Regions from separate parts of the Homo sapiens genome. Here region 1 is linked to region 2. A link means that fine-mapping ties the variant in region 2 to the expression of a gene that starts in the linked region. Tissue or cell type: esophagus muscle. Region 2 holds a variant in brackets; the other region holds the start of a gene. All regions are shown on one strand. Distances are from middle to middle.

Region 1 (8,005 bases), 51 kb after region 2:
GGCCAGTCCTCCTCATAGTCTAAACCGGATCTTCCATCTGTCTCTCACCAGGGCCTGTGCTACTGGTCAGTGTGCCCTGCTTGCCATGGGGCCAGCCCCAAGGGCCCTCCTCTGCATGGTTCTGCCTGGCACAGAGCCCCCTCCTCCTGGGCACTGGACGTCACTACAGCCCTTCCTTCTGTGGCCTCAGCTAGTAGCAGCTCTTCCGCAGCAGGGTGCAACAGCACTGACTTGTTCAGAGCTCAGGGGTACCGGAAAACCCAAGCTGGTGAGCTGGGGTTTGGTCTTGTTACACATGAGCTGGTGAGCTGGCCTCTCGGGCCATCACTGGCGTGCAGGATCTTTTGAACCCAACCCAGGGGCCTGACACGTATCCTTGCTAAATGTCATTATTTTGGATTGGGACCAAGAGCCACAGCAGTGAGGGTAACACAAAGCCTGAGTGGAGTGGTGCCCACGGATGTCACTCTCCCTCCCAGCTGGCCATCGGCCATGGCACTGCCATCTCTCCCATCTTCATCACATCCCCAGCAAAACTTCTGAGCAGGGAAGAGCTAAAGGGTGGACAGGGTGAGCCTGCCACTCCAGCCCTCCCGCCTCCCCCAGGATCTGCACATCTCTGCTACAGAAATGCTCACGAAAATCAAGCAGTTGCCAGAAACCACGCCTCCGAAAGACAGATGCCCTTCAGGGATGGGGCCCGAGACAACTGCTGGGCAGGCTCCAGCTTTCTCACAGGGCCTTCCTTTTGCCTGCCACCAAATTTCTCTCTCTCTCTTTTTTTTTTTTTTTGAGACAGAGTCTTGCTCTGTCACCCAGACTGGAGTGCAGTGGTGCGATCTCGGCTCACTGCAAGCTCCACCTCCCGGGTTCATGCCATCCTCCTGCCTCGGCCTCCCAAGTAGCTGGGACTACAGGCGCCCACCACCATGCCCGGCTAATTTTTTGTATTTTTTAGTACAGATAGGGTTTCACCGTGTTAGCCAGGATGGTCTCGATCTCCTGACCTCATGATCTGCCCACCTCGGCCTCCCAAAGTGCTGGGATTACAGGCGTCAGCCACCACACCCAGCTATCTCTCTCTTTTTTTTTAATCCAAAGCCTAATGTCTTACAGACATATGGGCCTTCTTGTATCTCTAGTTCTCTCTAAGGAATCCAGAGAGCGGGGAAGTGCAAGAGGCTACCAGGAACATTCAGGAAAGTTCCTCTTCTCCCCAGGGTGGCACTGAAAGGATCCCTCCAGGGAACCCACTAAACCAACTTTAGTGTAGAAACATCAATTGGCCCGTGTGTGCTGAGCCCCTTCCCTGCAGCAGGCGCTGGATGGTGGAATGTCCCTATGGGTGAGACATGGTCCCTGCCCTCCAGGAACTTAGAGTCAAATCTGCAGAATGAGCATGCTGCTGTTAGCACCTCCAACCTCCTTTTTTCTAAATATATTTCTCTTTCCAACCTTCTCTCCCTACTTCCCTCAAACTCCCCAGCCTCCCCGTCAAGATCTTCTCTTAGCTAAGCATCTAGAGCTCATTCACAGGAAGGTATGAGGGACTGATCATAGCTGAAAGGGTTCTCATTCCCAAGAGAGATGTAGTTTAACCACAATCAGAGCCTTAAGCTAAAGTGCCAGGTGGTAGAATTTCAGGCCAAGAAGACAAGAGTTTTGGCAAGGAAGGGAATATTGCTCTCATGGTGGCGCCCTTGAAATCTTCCCATGTGTACGGTTCCCTAGTACAGTGACACAGAAGTGACAGAAGTGACAGAACTGACAGCCCAGAGACATGTTTGAGTCTGGCAAGGGATCGATCCTAGCCATGCCATGCCATGCCTCAGCTGCCACCACCAATCAGGGATGTCAGATCTCAACCACAAAGGACACTGACATGCTTGTCGCTCCCCTTGCACGGCCTCTGTCTGCTCACCTCTGCCCACACCTCCAGGTCCTAGAGGTTCCTTGCCCTCTGGGGAGCCCCAAACCTCCTACTACCCCTGCCTCCCAGTAATGAGCTCTAGATCTGTGCTGCCCAGTATAGGAGCCGCCAGTCATACACGACTATTGGGTACCAGAAACATCTCTCACCCAAACGGAGTTTGCTATCAGTGTAAAATTTCATGCCACACTGCACATTGAAGACAACAGGGAAAAAGAATGTAAAAAATCTCGTAAACACTTGTATCTTGATTACATGTTGAAATAATAACATTTGGGGTATGTTTAGTCAAAGAAAATATACTATTAAAATTAACGTCACCTGTTTCTATTTGTTTTAATGTGGTTACTAGAAAATTTTAAATTGTACTTGTGGCTCCCATTTTATTTCTTTGGACAGTGTGACCCTGGATGAAGGGCCCAGGCTCTCCCTCAACTGCAAAGGGGCAGAATAAGCAGTCTGCCATTAGCATCTCCAACCTCCTTTTTCTAAATGTATTTCTCTTTCCAACTCCCTACTCCCCTCAAGCTTCCACCCTCCCCAGTCAAGACCTTTTCTTAGCCAAGGACCTAGAGCTCATTCACATGAAGGAATAAGGGTCTGGTAATAGCTGAAAATGTTCTCATTCCCACTCTCTCCAATAGGAAGACATCCTCATGGGCTGGGGACACCAGAGACTCTCTCCAAAGGGAAGGTGTCCTGCTGGGTTGGGGGTTGGGGGTCGGGGGGTGGGGGAGTTGAGGCAGGTTGTACCTCTAATCAAGGGGCCTAAAATGGGGGAGGGATCCCAGAATACCTCCAGAGCCAGGGGCCAAAACTAGGTAAGTCCCTGGGCTCCAAATAGCAAGGGGCAGACTCAAGGAGCTTCCGAATTCTGTCTCATCACCCCGTCTAACCCAGCCACCCTACAGAGGTAGGAGGGACAAACTCCACTTTCCCCCGCCACAATCTCCTCCCTTGCCTCCCCCTCCCCACCTCCCACCTACCCACCCCCGCCAGCCCCACTGCACTGCTGAAGCCTTCCTCCAGCCACTGCTCCCTCCTCACACAGGACAGCTACACCCTGGTGCCCACAAATGAAGTCCAGACAGCTTAGTCCCATAGACAGAGCCCTCTGCACCCTGACCGCAACCAACCGTCCTCCCATCCCTGGAACCCACAGCTCTGCCAGTCTGCTGGCCAAACAGCCCCATTCTGCCCTCATCTCCAGGCCTCGTTCCAGCATCCCCCAGGCTGGAATGTCCTCATCCCAACAGAAGTCTACTCTCCTTCAGGGCCCAGCTGAAATCCCTCTCCCACAGGCACCTGCCTTGATGCCTCAGGCTCTAGGCGCAGGGACTGCGGCCAGGCTGGGGCACCTGCCCTTCTTCCCCCTGCCCTGGCTTCCCCTCCTGGGTGGGGAGCTCTGTGTAGTGGTCCCCTCCACCCCTCCATTCTGCCCTGCGGCAGGTGTGTGTGCACTCATTAACACCCTGCCCCACACTGGACTGCGGGCTCCTTGAGGGCAGACACATTGTCTCAGAGACCTCTGCCCACCCACCCACTCAGGGTCTCACCCCTTCCACAAACAGCCCTTAAACTAATGTTTGACAAACACAGAGATCCCCAAAGAGCCCCAGAGAGGATGGCAGTGGTCAGTCCTGCAGGACACAGCAGCATCTAGAAGGGTCTGAGCACCTTCCCAGGCTGGGGGCCTTCTCCTTCCCGGGTCCTCACAGCTCAGCCAGACCCCCTGGCACGGACCTGCACACACATGCACACTCCCGCACTCATACCCGCTCACATCTGAGATACCGATGGCTCTCCCTCTCCCAGGCTAGGAAACTCTGTCGCAGGAGTCCTCCCCACCCACCAGCAGAACCCCCGGACCCCCTGCCCTTCCGGTGAGCCGCCCCTCCTTTGCCGTCGGGTTTCCCTCCCTCCCTTTTGCCCAGCCAAAACCCGAACCCAGGCGCCAGGGGAGAGGACCGCCGTTCTAGCTTGCCCCACTGCTGGGGGCACGGAGTTCTTGCTCCTCCAAGGCTACGGCCCCCGTCTCCGCGGACCCCGCCCGGACTCCCCCTGGCCACCGGGACGCCCCGCCCCCTCCCCTCCGCAGCAATCTCTTACACTCGGGCTGTGAAGTTCGGGGTATTTTTAGGCCGGCGATAAATAATTCATAGGGAACGTGGCATCAGGCTCCCCCCGCGGGAGGAGGGGGCGCGAGCAGCGAGAGCCACCGTCACCCGCGGCTCAAGGACACTCGCGATGCGGCGGCGGCGGCGGCGGCGGCGGCTCCGGGCGGGGACCCGCGCCACGCCTCCTGGCGGCCAAGCTGAGCACCACGCACCCGGCGCCCCCCGCCCCACGCTGCCCCCCGCCGGCGTCCGCGGCTCCGGGGCCCCCACCCCCACTCCCCCAAGCTGGGTCGTGACCCCGAGTCCCGCAGTGGGGGGACCAAGCCAGCCTGGCAGGCGGCCCCAGTACCATCCCAGGCCCGCCCGGGGGCCCTGGGCGAACCCAGGTGTCCCGGACCTGCCTACCTGCCCCTGGCACGCTCTTATTCTTCGGGAGTTTAGAAACAGGCTCAAAGTCACTAGCACCGCCAAGACCTGGACGGGCTCTGAAATACAGCCAGCGGAATGGTACCCTCCCCAAATAAGTGTCTTTCCTCGATTTTCCTGTGGCCCGGGGTCAGGGACTGAACTAAGATAACGCCACCATCCGAGGGCTGGGGGACCGAGCCAGAAGTCCCCTTGGACGACCAGGGCTGGGAAACCGAGTGGACGAATGGGGTGGGCATCAGGGCCTGGCGGGAATTCCCGTCTTGCTCACCCAGCAGCTCCTTGCAGGGTCGCGGGACGCACCTGGGGGTTCAGGTTGCCGGGTGCCTTTGCTCCGCGTGTCCCCGCCCTGCCCGCGTAGGCAGGAAACAGGAGACTCGGGGCTTCCCCTCCCCGCCGTCGGGGATCCTGGGCGAAGCCCCCAGAGACCGGCGCAGGCGGCTGGTGCGCAGCCAGGGCCCAGCGCCAGGTCTTGCTCGCCCAGTGCCCTCTCTGCCTACCCTTCCCTTTGCGCTCTGGAAGCCCGGGAGCCGGGCACGGGCCAGCATCTGCAAGATGCCACTACTCTGGAAGCCCACTCCGATTCTCCCAGGTCGCAGGAAGGAGAGAGCTAGGCTGGGGCAAAGGAGATGGGGCAGAGCTGGAAGGGGAAGAAGCGGGACTCGCGGCGGGGGAAGGGGTCTGGGCGCCGAGGCGAGTGCGCAGCAGGTGCCCAGCAGACCTAGGGAAACTGGGGCACTGGGCTGGGGAGCCGCACAGCCCCCTTTCACCTTCTCGACTCCTTTCCAACCCCTCGCTCTGGTGGATCCCAGCCCCGGCCCCCACTCCCGGCCCTGTTCCCCGCTCTCCGCCCCGGCGGCTTCCAGCAGCAACAGTTTGGGTCCGCGGCAGCCCAGACTCCCCTGGTCCCGCGGTGCTGCCGCGCCAAGCGAAGGAGGAGGAGGGCTCGGCGACCCTGGGGACGAACGTCTTGGACGCTTCGCCCGCGTCCTTCTCTCGCGTCCGCCGCGCGCCTGTCTGCTCGGCCTCTTCTTCGCCTTCTCTCCGGCCGCCCGGGTCAAAACCCAAGGCCAGGTTCTTGAGGGTCCGGGTCCTCCAGCCGCCCCCTCCTTGAGCCCCGAGAGTCCTGCGTGGGTCCAACCCCCCGGGTGTCCCGCCTCTGTCTCCGCCGTCCTTGCTCGCGCGCCGCGGGAACCCAGCCCCAAGTTGGCGGCGAAGTTGGTGCCCCTCGCCCGCCGCTCGCCACTTACCGAGGGGAAGGGGCGCTGCGCCCGCGACGAGAGCCCGCGCCGGCCGCCTCCCTCGCGGTGTCTGTCCCAGAGCCTCGGCCCCGGAGGGCTGGCGCGCTCAGTCTCAGCTCCGCGGGCGCCGGAGCCCGGGCGCGGCGGGGCGGGGGCGGGGGCGGGTGGCGCGGCCTGGTCCGCTGGCCCCGACCCGCCCCTGCGCCCCGCGACCCTCCCGAAGCTCGCACGGCGCCCGGCTCCGTCCCGGGCTGGGCTGCGCACCGCGCCTCCTGCTCCCAGAGCTCGCAGCCGACTGTGCGGGAGCTCTCACCGCCGCCCGCGAGGGCCCGCCCCGCCGGGGCCCGCCACCTCCGCCCCGGCCCGGCCCGGCCCGCTGCCCCTCGAGGCCCCTCCCGCCGCATTCCCGGGCCCCTCTCCCCTCTCCGGAACCGCGTCCCCAGACCTGACACTCGGGGCAAGTGCGCCTCGGAGGACACACCAGCCTGCCCGGAGCCTGGGTTTGAGCCCGCAGCTCACGAGTGTGTGACCTTGGGCCAATTTCGAGGACCCCTCAGGTTATACAGCGAGGCAGCATCTTGAGGGCTGCCATAAAAGGGAGTGACCACTCTCTGGACACTGCAAAGCCCTAGGGAGACTGAGGCACTATTTTTAAAGGCCAGTGTGTCTGACTGGAAACGGAAGCAGGAAGGCTTTGAGAGCCAAAGAATGGGCCCCAGGCTAGACTCGCCTGGGGCACCCAGAGGTACAGGGGACAAGCTGCTTCTCAGTCCCCCGCTCCCATTTCTTTTCTGTTTTGATTGTACTGAGGGCTCCCCAGGGAGGGGTGGTCCCGGTCCCGGTCCCGGGCAGCCCTAGTGTGGACAGAAGACAGGCAACCCGCAGCCACAGCAGGGCCGAGCGGAGAAAGGAAGGGTGGCTATGCCAGGCCTGGCTGCCGAGCCCCATCAAGCCCCCAATGAGGCCCCTGAGCAGGGAGCCGTCTCTGCAGCGCCACCTGGTGATGGTAGGGGAGCTACGGCCAGAAGGTGACCCCCGACCCCAACCCTTCCAAAAAAAGTCCCCCATCAACCATGGCTCTTGGTTGCAGCTGTTTTATTTCCAGCATGTTCCCAACCTGGTGACCCTCCACAGTCCAGCAGTAGAGAGATGGGTAAGGGGTTAGATCGGCCCACACCTCCACCTGTCCCTAAGGTTACCTCAGTTGCTGAAAGCTAAAACCTTGCGCGCAAGGGCGACCTTCCCCAGGAGGGAGGAGAGACGCTGGAAGAGCAGCCAAGCCTCCAAGCCAGGGCCGGCCGGGATCAGCAGAGGTGCAAAGTCCCACTCAGACGGACCCAGCCCTTCCCCTCCCAACACTCATCCCTTCCCTGCTGGGGGCCGGGGCTGGGGCTGGGCTCAGTGGCCCAGGAGGCGCAGCATCTCCTGAGGATCCACCAGCTTCTCCCTGGGCTTCCCCGTGCCCTGGCCCCGGGCCACCTCCTCGGCATCCAGCTTCTCCCAGTCTGAGAAAGAGACTGGCCGGACCCCTGAAGCAGAGGGGAGATTGTCAACACCTCCTCCTTCACCCCTCCCAGAACAGCCCCCTCCCAAAGAGTGAGGCCCAGAGAAGGACCACCCACCCCACCTCCCAGGACCTCAGCATCGGGGCCCAGACCTCGGCTGCTGAGCAGGGCCTGGATGGCTGCGTAGCCAGGCCTGGGGCCAGAGGGGAGCAACCCAGCCTTCAGGTCCTGCAGCAGCATCTGGCCGGTGAGGAAGCTGTCAGTCATGGTTGTGGCTATGACACCTGTAGGTCCTCTCTTCACCCAGCCGCTGCAGTAGAGGCCTGAGAGGGGGTAACAAAAGGGGAAGGGAGGGAGGTGGCTGGATACCACCCTGGCCATCCTGTGCCCACAATCTACACCCACGTGCACGCACACAGACACCCCACGCCTCTTGGCAGACTGTCGGCTGAGCCTGCTGTGGCCGCTGGTCCACTGCCCTGGATTCTTCTCTCCCTGTTTTTACCAGGCCGACCCCCTTACACCTCAGTTTCCCTGTAGATGAGGGGATCCCTAAGCTTAGGAGCTGAGGCTTGCTCCCCTGCAGTTTCAGTAGGCCCTTGGTAAATGTTTACCAAGTGAATTAATCACTAGATAGGTATGTGGGCACTTAGTAAAACTGGAAGCTCCCTGAGGACACAGGCTGCCTTATTAATCTCCAATCCCAGCACTAAGCACAGGGCCTAACCCAGAAAAGACCTCAGTAAACGTTTGTTGAATGACTTAATGACCCGACGTATGTCACAT
Region 2 (8,215 bases):
TCGCTGACAGTGGACCAAGGAACATTTTCATAAGCCTCAGGCACAAAAGGAGGCACTGGGGGTGTGGCAGCAGATACCCCATGTGAGTGTGACTCTAGAAGGGTCTTGAGCCACCGCAGGGCATGTGTAGTTTGGCAATGGCAAGAACTTCCTTCAACCATGGATTGAGACATTTTCTGAACACCTTGATGGGAAGAGAATGCAGGGACTGGTATTGGGTGTTGGGCACTGGCTGAGGCCGGGAGGCCCCTGCGGTCTGTAATGTCCAGTTCTGGCGCCTTCTCCCACACTACTGCAGGGAGGCTGTGCTTCACCTGAGAGGCAGGTGAACAGTCTCTGGGAACACTTCCCAGCTGGTCCCTTTCCCCTGGATCAGGAAAGTGTTTCTCAAGATCTGGTTGCCTGACCACTGGCACAAGAGTGCCTTCGGGCTCTTAATAAAAATGTAGATGCTTGGGTCCTGCGCCAGGCCTGATGCAGTATATTCGAAGGCCACAGGGCCCAGGAATCCGCATTTTCAACCAGTTCTGAGGAGAATTCTGTGTGCTTTTCCCTTTGAGAAATCCTGCTGGCGCAGATCTGTCGAGGTAGTAAAAGGTCTCCCGGGGAGAGGCCTACTCTGGTCTTCCTTCAGGAACTGCTTCCCACAGCACCATGGTGGAGGCAGCTGTCAAGGGCTTCCCGTGCCTGCCTTTTGCAGGGAAAGGAGAGGGGCTGGGCAACCTACAGGTGCTGCCACATCCTGGAGTCCACACCTAAGGCACTGCCAGAGAGAAGAGGGGCTGTGCGTGCCCACTGGCTGGAGGCTGCTTTGTCACTTGCGGCTGACGGGTACCTCCCATGTCCCTAGCGGGTGGTGCTCTAGGCTTCCCCTGTAGCTTCCTCTGAAGCTGCTGGTTGGGGGCTCTAGACCCCGCAGCGTGCCAGCTCCCCGGAGAGGGCATCTCACTCTGACCCCCGACTAGGGAGGAAGCTGGGGGCTTGCTGATGTCACTTCTCAAACCCGCTTCAAGAGAGCTCATTAATCAGCCAGCTTGATATGCCATCTCCCCTCCGTCCCGCCTCCAAGGTTACTCAGTTCCCGGTCTATTTCAAGGCCAGACGTCAGCAGAAAAGGGGTGGAGCCAGCTGGGCCTGTGCAGCCCTCTCTGCAGGGCACCCGTGTTCTGGGCACCTGACTTCCCTCCCTTGCTTCCTCCAGCTCCTGCTGGAGCGTTCCCACTGCCATTGCTCTTCCTGCGCCGAGAGCATGGACCGAGGAAGGGAAGATGCCGAGAGCATCTCAAGTGATCGCCTGGCACCTCTCCTTGAGTGACGCACAAGCTCCGGGCAACAGAGGGCGATGGCACTGCCTCCTCCTGTTCCCAGGGCAGGGCGGGGGATTGACAGCTAGACTCTGGGCACCAAAAGCCATCAGATGCCAGCTGGTTACTGGAGACGCAAGCGGCCTCATGGGTTCCGAGGCCCATGGGCACACACATCACCACCAATGAATGTTCTGAGCAGTTCAATTCCTGGCAGAATCAGGTGGTTGGAGGTGTGGGTGTTTTTTCCCAAGGGAGCTGAGGGGCTAGATTGATGGCTCAGAGGGTCCCCCATCCTCTGTCACTTGCGACACAGCCCACCTGTTCCTCTCACGCTCTCTTGTTCTTAGGACCTGTGAGGATCAAGTTGACCCCTAGCCTGGCCCCAACAGTGGTAGCCCAGCCCCCAGCAGTTATGTGGCCAAGCAAGACATGCCCCGGCCTTCTCACTGGTATAAGATAGTGGTATACTGTGACCCCGGCTAACCCAGACCCAGCCTCTCCAGGCACAGCCGTCGGGGAGAATAATGCCGTGCACCCATCCCCTCCCTCCTCCTTGACATCCAGCATAAATACTAAAAGAGCTGTTTTTGTAGAGAGATCTCAAAAACTAAAACATGAGAGCCAGTAAGCCACGCCTGTAGTGCCCAGAGGAGTTTTGGTCCTTGGATCTGTTAACTCGGCCGAGGAGAGCCGGGAAAAGAGGTTTTCATGCTCTTCAGAGCTGCCAAACCCTCTATAAGAGCCCTGCCTTTCCTCACAGTCCCTATTTTCTTCCTGCCGTGGGGAAGAAAGGCTTCTCTAGAGCCTGCCCTAGAAAGTGGGCATTCCTCGCTCTGTCTCCCATCAGGTTCCCCAGGAGGGCCTAGGATGGCCTTTTCCCTCCTCTGTCCGATAGGATGGGAATGAAATTCCCTGATCTCCCCCTACCCCTGTCTATACTCCTAGTTCAAAGGATCAAAGTCCCTTTTAAAAACCTCATCATGTTAGGAGTGTCCCGCCCCACGGCTCCATGACGAGGGACAGCCTGTCACAGCCCCCTCCCTGGTGTGCACACCCAGCGCCTCACAGCAGAACTGCCCCAGGGTCATGAAGGTTTTCTGTGTCAACCCTGATTTTAGGGCAGTCTGATTGCCATCTCCCTGCTTAAAACCCCACAGAAGCTCCTCTCCAGAAAGCAAAGTCTAAACTCCCTCACGTGGCATGGTCTGCCCCAGTCTCCTGGAGCCTTCTCTCTCCCCCAGACACCCCCCCACCCCACCCCGCCAGTGTCATCCCCAGACGTCGAGTGCTGTCACGGCCTGGCCCACCACGTGCCTGTGCCTTGCTTTGGAGTCAGAGGAGCGTTCGTCTAGTCCACACTGAGCTCAGGACCCCTCTTCCCTCACCCCCTGCCATGGCATTAATTGGGCTTTTATGATTATTCCGTTCCTTGACCTCATTGTGAGCTCCTTCAGGGCACGGGCTGCGTCTCGTTCACCTTTCCGTCTAGAGCCAGCATGGCCCATCGCAGCGTGGTTGCTCCCTGAAGGTTGCAATGAGGGAAACTGCTTACAGGTGGACGCCACTGCTGGGCCTGTGGCGGGGCTTTGGCACACAACCCTCCCCTGGGCCTTAGCCTGCTGATGGCCAGAGCCCACCACAGCTAGTGGCTGCTGCTTCTGCAAGACAGACTCCATGCACAGCCAGCCCCTCCTTTCCCAGTGGGCGGGTCATCCTCTGGTCCTCGCTGCCAGGACAAGCTTCCCCTCCGCAAGTGCCAGAGCACTTCTGTCTTTGGGGGGCAGAAGTAGAAGGGAGCAGCTGGAATCCGTCCACTGCCGTGAAGTCACAGACAGCTCGTCACCCGTCTCTTTCTCCAGCACCACCAATTTGCATCTGAAATTCGGACAGTGACGGATTAGAGTAGGCGCCAGCTCCACAGACAGGTCTGTTCCTCACGTCCCACAGCTTTGCGCACACATGCCCTCTGCCCCACCCCAGCTCCTCACGTAACATCCGTAAAGCTCTCCTAGGTCAAGGTCAGAACCCATGGTCTTTTCACCTGGATGTGCAGGTGCTAGATTCCGTGGTCCTCCGTCAGGCTTGTGAAGAGCCGGGCTGTCCTCTATAAACCCTGATGGCTCATAATCATTAGGCAAATGACTGTGTGGGTTTTCCACAATATTTATCTTCCCCTTCCCCCTAAACCACAAGGGTTGCAGCTCTGGCATCAAATACTTGGAACTCTGCCCACCATCGGGTACCATCTGGCTTTTCAGCCGAGAAAGAGCCCACACAGGCAGGCAGCTTGTCCTCCAATGAGAGGCCAGGCCAAGGCCACTGGGCCAGCCCAGTCCTGCCCTGAAGGCGCCAGCCTTGAGGGGGCCACAGAGTGGATGGCAGAGGAGACAGCCCTTCCATCAGGATGTAAGCAAAGGAGACAGTTGAGTGCTCTAAAGAGGAACTGGGTGCTCTAAAGAGGGACTGGGCTTTGACTGAAGATGACCTGTTTCGAATCCCTGCCACATCTAAGCAGTGTGAGGTTTGGGACAAATGAATCCCTCTCAACCTGTTTCCTACCAAGTGGAGACAGTCACCAAGGTGCAGGTGTCTGCAGGGAGGAGCTCTCCTTGGAAGATGCCATCCTGCCTGGGCACTCTGGTAGTGCCTGGCAGTGCCAGTCCACTTGCTGGTTCTGAGCCTCGTCTTCCCTGCCCCGGGGCAGAGCCTTCTCTGGAATGACAGACATCAGTCTCAGGTGTCTCGGGAAGCTTGGAGAGCTTGGGAAGGGCTCCAGGTAGAGAAGGGTGTCATGTTCAGGGGCTGAGCTCTTGCCACCAGCATCCCCTCAGTGTGAGCTTAATACCAGCTCCCAGCTAGAAGCTTGGAGACAACAGGCGGGGTATTACCAGGTGTGTGGACTCATCCTGGTTCCAAAGGTGGGTGGAGTTTGCTGCCTGGGGGCCACAGCGTGTGTTCTGGGCAGACACAGGCTCCCTCCTGCAGCGGCCACAGTGCATGGACAGTTTTCTGGCAGGTCAAAGCCAGGCTGCGCATCCGGTGCTGCAGGAGCCCCCAGTGGGTCATGGCATTAGGTTCCCTCCCAGGTGGCACCTTCCCCCACATGCCTCCCACGCACGGGCTCCTATGAGCCGCACTCTGCCTGATAGGAAGTTTCTGACGTTCCTTTTTCACCATCAAGGGGTTAGGGAGAAGATGCTCATTTTGTTGCCTCCCAGAGCTCCGGTAAAGATAGGTTACAAACCTCAGGTCCCTAACTAAGAAATTGAGCATGTCATTTACGTAGGGGTACGGGGTATTCAGAGGAGGTGGTTCAGAAAAGGAAGTATATGGGTTTTTCTTGGCTCTGTTTCCACTTGCCTTGAAAAGGGGGAAGCAGAGGTTTGAGGAAGGGACCTGGGGAGGTTTTCGGCTGTCAAACATTCAAAGACGGTCCTTCAGCCAGTGTTTGGGGAGTAACAGCAAACCCAAGAACTGCCTTCCAGACGCCTCTGGTTGTCTCCTCACTGACAGGGCTGAGCCTCAGAGCAGCCTCCCCCAGGCTCCTCAGGAGTCGTGAGCGGTGCCACAGTGGCTCTGGACTGTCCCTCCCGTGCTGTCCAGCTCTCCCTGTCTTTCTCGGAGCCCGCACAGGGGAGTCCAGGCAGCTCTCGTCCCATGCAGCCTGCGTCACAGCTGCCATGGGATGGCCAGACTCCTGGAGCGGGTGCTGCTTCGGTTCTGTGCGGGAAGCTCTCACGCAGCCCCTTCATGCCGCCTCTTTCCCAGCCACAGGCTAACAT[C/T]GCATCCTGGGAGGTGGTGTTCTGGACCTGCAATAGCTCAGGCAGGCGGTGGACCAGGGCTGCTTGAGAGCCCTGGCCCCCCAGGTCCAAGGGGGCAACGTTGCATAAAAGAGAGCATCCATCCACCTTTCCCCTGGTTTCTTTCTCCCTGAAATCATTCTTCCAGGTTCCCCAGCATCAGAGTCGAATAACATTTTCACAAGTATCTGAGCAGAGGTAGCGCAGGTGCCCCACTGTTGGCCAGTCTGTACCTGTACCGAGAATGTGCCCAGAGTTCATCTTTATCTCCGCTAGCTGGGCGAAGGGACGGGTCTTTCCTCCCGACCAGCCCCTGGTTGCTGAGCTCCTGCTGCGAGGATTTGGTTTCTTTCCTCTGCTTTCTAGCTTGGTGGCCGCTTTGGAACACGCTGCTGGGACCTTCACTTTTGGCTCATGATTGCCTCTGCCTGGAGGCTCAGTGTCCTCCCGTCTTTGAGAAGAGCTGTAGATCTTCCGTCTCTCCACTCACGCATTCAGAACGAGGCTGCCAGCTTGGCGTGAGCAGCCATGGTTTTTTACTGAAGATAATGGTGACCTAGTGACAAGGTGCATAGAGCTGGCCTCTAATGCACAGGGGGCACCCACTTCTTTAGAGTCATCTAGGCATCAACCGTCAGTTCTGTCTTCGGTCATCATGTGAATCTTTCAAACTTGGAGTCTATTCAGTAGGCATCTCCCAAGGACCTTCTAGTTGAGGGGTTTGGGAAGATCAGGGGGAGCCAAGGACAAAGGGCCATGCTAACTTGTTCAAAAAGTGCGTTATGGCAGGTGTTGGGCTAACACTAATCACTGCTGCAGAGAGGGACGTGCACTGAGGGAGGCAGCCAGCCTCCGCCTGTCCTCATCTCTCACTCTGCACCAGGTACACAGTATTTGAGAATTGGTGGGGGCAAGATTGGCACTGTCTGTCATGCTTGCGTTGGTGTCTAGAACCCGACAGCCTGTCCTGGCACAAATCCCATCCCCTCCCAGTCTCTGGGTCAGCCCATTCCTGGGCTGGTCTTCAGGAGGGGCGCTGCTCACCCTCTGCCCTGTCGAGAACATTTTAGGAAGCTCATCCTTATATAGTTCCTTGTGAAAGTGCAATCATCCGCAGAATTCGGACGACCTCCTCTAGATGGCATGGTGCCTCTCATCACAGAGTTTTGGCAAATAAGCTGTGACAGTGGTTCATGGGATTTGGTGCACACAGGCTGCCGGCATGGTTTCTGACACGGCTCCTGCTCTCTTTCTCTGGCAGACGTCTTCCGCATGGTGAATGATCCTTTGTGTTTGGTCGGGAAGAACTTGGACTGTCTTAAAGAGCATTTGTACTGTAGTTGAACTTGAGTGGAGGTCATGGAAGTCAAATAAGAATAGTACTGGGGCTGGGCACCGTGGCTTACGCCTGGAATCCTAGCACTTTGGGAGGCCAAGGAAGGCAGATTGCTTGAGCTCAGGAGTTTGAAACCAGCCTGGGCAATATGGTAAGACCCTGTCTCTACAAAAAATACAAAAATTAGCGAGGCGTGGTGGCACACGCCTGTAGTCTCAGCTATTCAAGAGGCTGAGGTGGGAGGATTGCTTGAGCCTGGGAGGTCAAGGCTGCAGTGAATCATGATCACACTACTGCACTCCAGCCTGGGCAACAGAGCGAGACCTTGTCTGAAGAAACCAAAAAAAAACAAACAAAAAAATGCATTTGGACCATAGTTGAACTTGGGTGGACCTCATGGAAGTCAAATAAGAATAGTAGAATAGTACTGGGGGCCAGGCTGGCCAGGCATGGTGGCTCAGGCCTGTAATTCCAGCATTTTGGGAGGCCAAGGCAGGCAGATCACTTGAGGTCAGGAGTTCATGACCAGCCTGGCCAACATGGTGAAATCTCATCTCTACTAAAAATACAAAAATTAGCAAAGCGTGGTGGCATATGCCTGTAGCCCCAGCTACCTGGGAGGCTGAGGCAGGACAATCACTTGAGCCTGGGAGGTGGAGGTTGCCGCGAGCCAAGATCACACCACTGCACTTTAGCCTGGGCAGCAGAGTGAGACTATCTCAAAAAAAGAAAAAAGAAAAGAATAGTATTGGGGCTAGGCATGGTGGCTCACGCCTGTAATCCTAGCACTTTGGGAGGCCAAGGCAGGAGGATCACTTGAGGCCAGGAGTTTGAGACCAGCCTGGACAATATAGTGAGACCCCCATCTCTGCAAAAAAAATAATAATAATAATAATTAATTAGCAGAATGTGGTGGCATGCATTTGTAGTCGTAGCTACTCAGGAGGCTTAGGCGGGCAGATCGCTTGAGCCTAGGAGTTCGGGGCTGCAGTGAGCTATGATCGCACCACTGCACTCCAGCCTGGGTGACAGTGCCTCAAAAAAAAAAAAATAGCATTGACTTAACATTCTTTGGTTGGAGCTCCTTGCTTGGCTTCAGGAGTGCTGCGTTCCCCCACCGAGATGTTTGGACAGGAGTGATGACTTGGTGTGTGCTGACACAGGGGGTCAGGAAGCCACGCTCATGTCTGTTGAGTGTCTTCTGTGCACACGCAGCATGCTTTGAGGGGTTCAGGAACTTGAAAGCTCTCGCAGTTAGAAGGGACATCAGGATGCAAATCCTGCCCTAGCCACGTGACCCTGAAGCCTGTGGTCCTTCAGCTGACCCACACTGCCTCAGAACTCACCTTCGTGTGGGTGAATCCCCAGATACTGTAATTCAAGTTGAGAAAATAAAAACTTCCAAACCAAAACGTTCACAGCCACTTGAGAAATAAAAATAGAATCCTTGAACGTTTCTTCACTACACTTCAAGGACGTGTTGAAAGTTCACTTCCCATTTAGGGACGGGCTCATGCTGAGTTGCCATTAACCCCAATTAACTCTTAACCCCTTGTGCCCACCAAGAGCAGCCCTGGAGTCTGGGGGATCCTTTCTTTTATCGCTTGAAATAACCTCCAGGATCAGGGAGCTCGGCTGTGCGATTTGTGCGCTCCGCCTCCACCCAGATGAGCCCCCCTGCGCCCTCCTCACTCCAAGCCCGAGTGCTCCGTGGTCAGCTCCCACAGGTCTCTGTGCGTTTAAGGTAGCCCTATTCAACCTTTCAAGGCTTG

Alleles and levels. Positions count from the first base shown, and alleles are read on the strand shown. Sizes are in standard deviations (SD) of each study's normalised expression.
For the expression in esophagus muscle of the gene that starts at base 4,181 in region 1, allele T in region 2 goes with a lower level than allele C (moderate effect, 0.65 SD a copy in GTEx).

Evidence for each region. PIP is the estimated chance that this variant, and not a neighbour inherited with it, causes the effect.
Region 1: it holds the start of GRIN2C, and the variant in region 2 is fine-mapped to the expression of GRIN2C in esophagus muscle (GTEx, PIP above 0.99). The same link has a PIP of 0.9 or more in gastroesophageal junction, prostate, sigmoid colon, tibial nerve and transverse colon.

The regions. Positions count from the first base shown.
Region 1 is chr17:74,855,705-74,863,709 of GRCh38, forward strand. It overlaps GRIN2C (glutamate ionotropic receptor NMDA type subunit 2C), which reads right to left and starts at 4,181. Exons shown (of 13, transcript NM_000835.6): 1 at 4,040-4,181. It overlaps FDXR (ferredoxin reductase), which reads right to left. Exons shown (of 12, transcript NM_024417.5): 11 at 7,372-7,542; 12 at 6,793-7,243. The coding sequence ends at 7,113. RefSeq lists an enhancer at 5,008-5,706.
Region 2 is chr17:74,804,555-74,812,769 of GRCh38, forward strand. The region is part of intron 8 of SLC38A12 (solute carrier family 38 member 12); the gene reads left to right. Among named protein-coding and RNA genes, the nearest start is that of SLC38A12, 32 kb to the left of the region's middle. RefSeq lists an enhancer at 7,644-8,215. The variant C/T (reference allele first, on the strand shown) is at 5,090.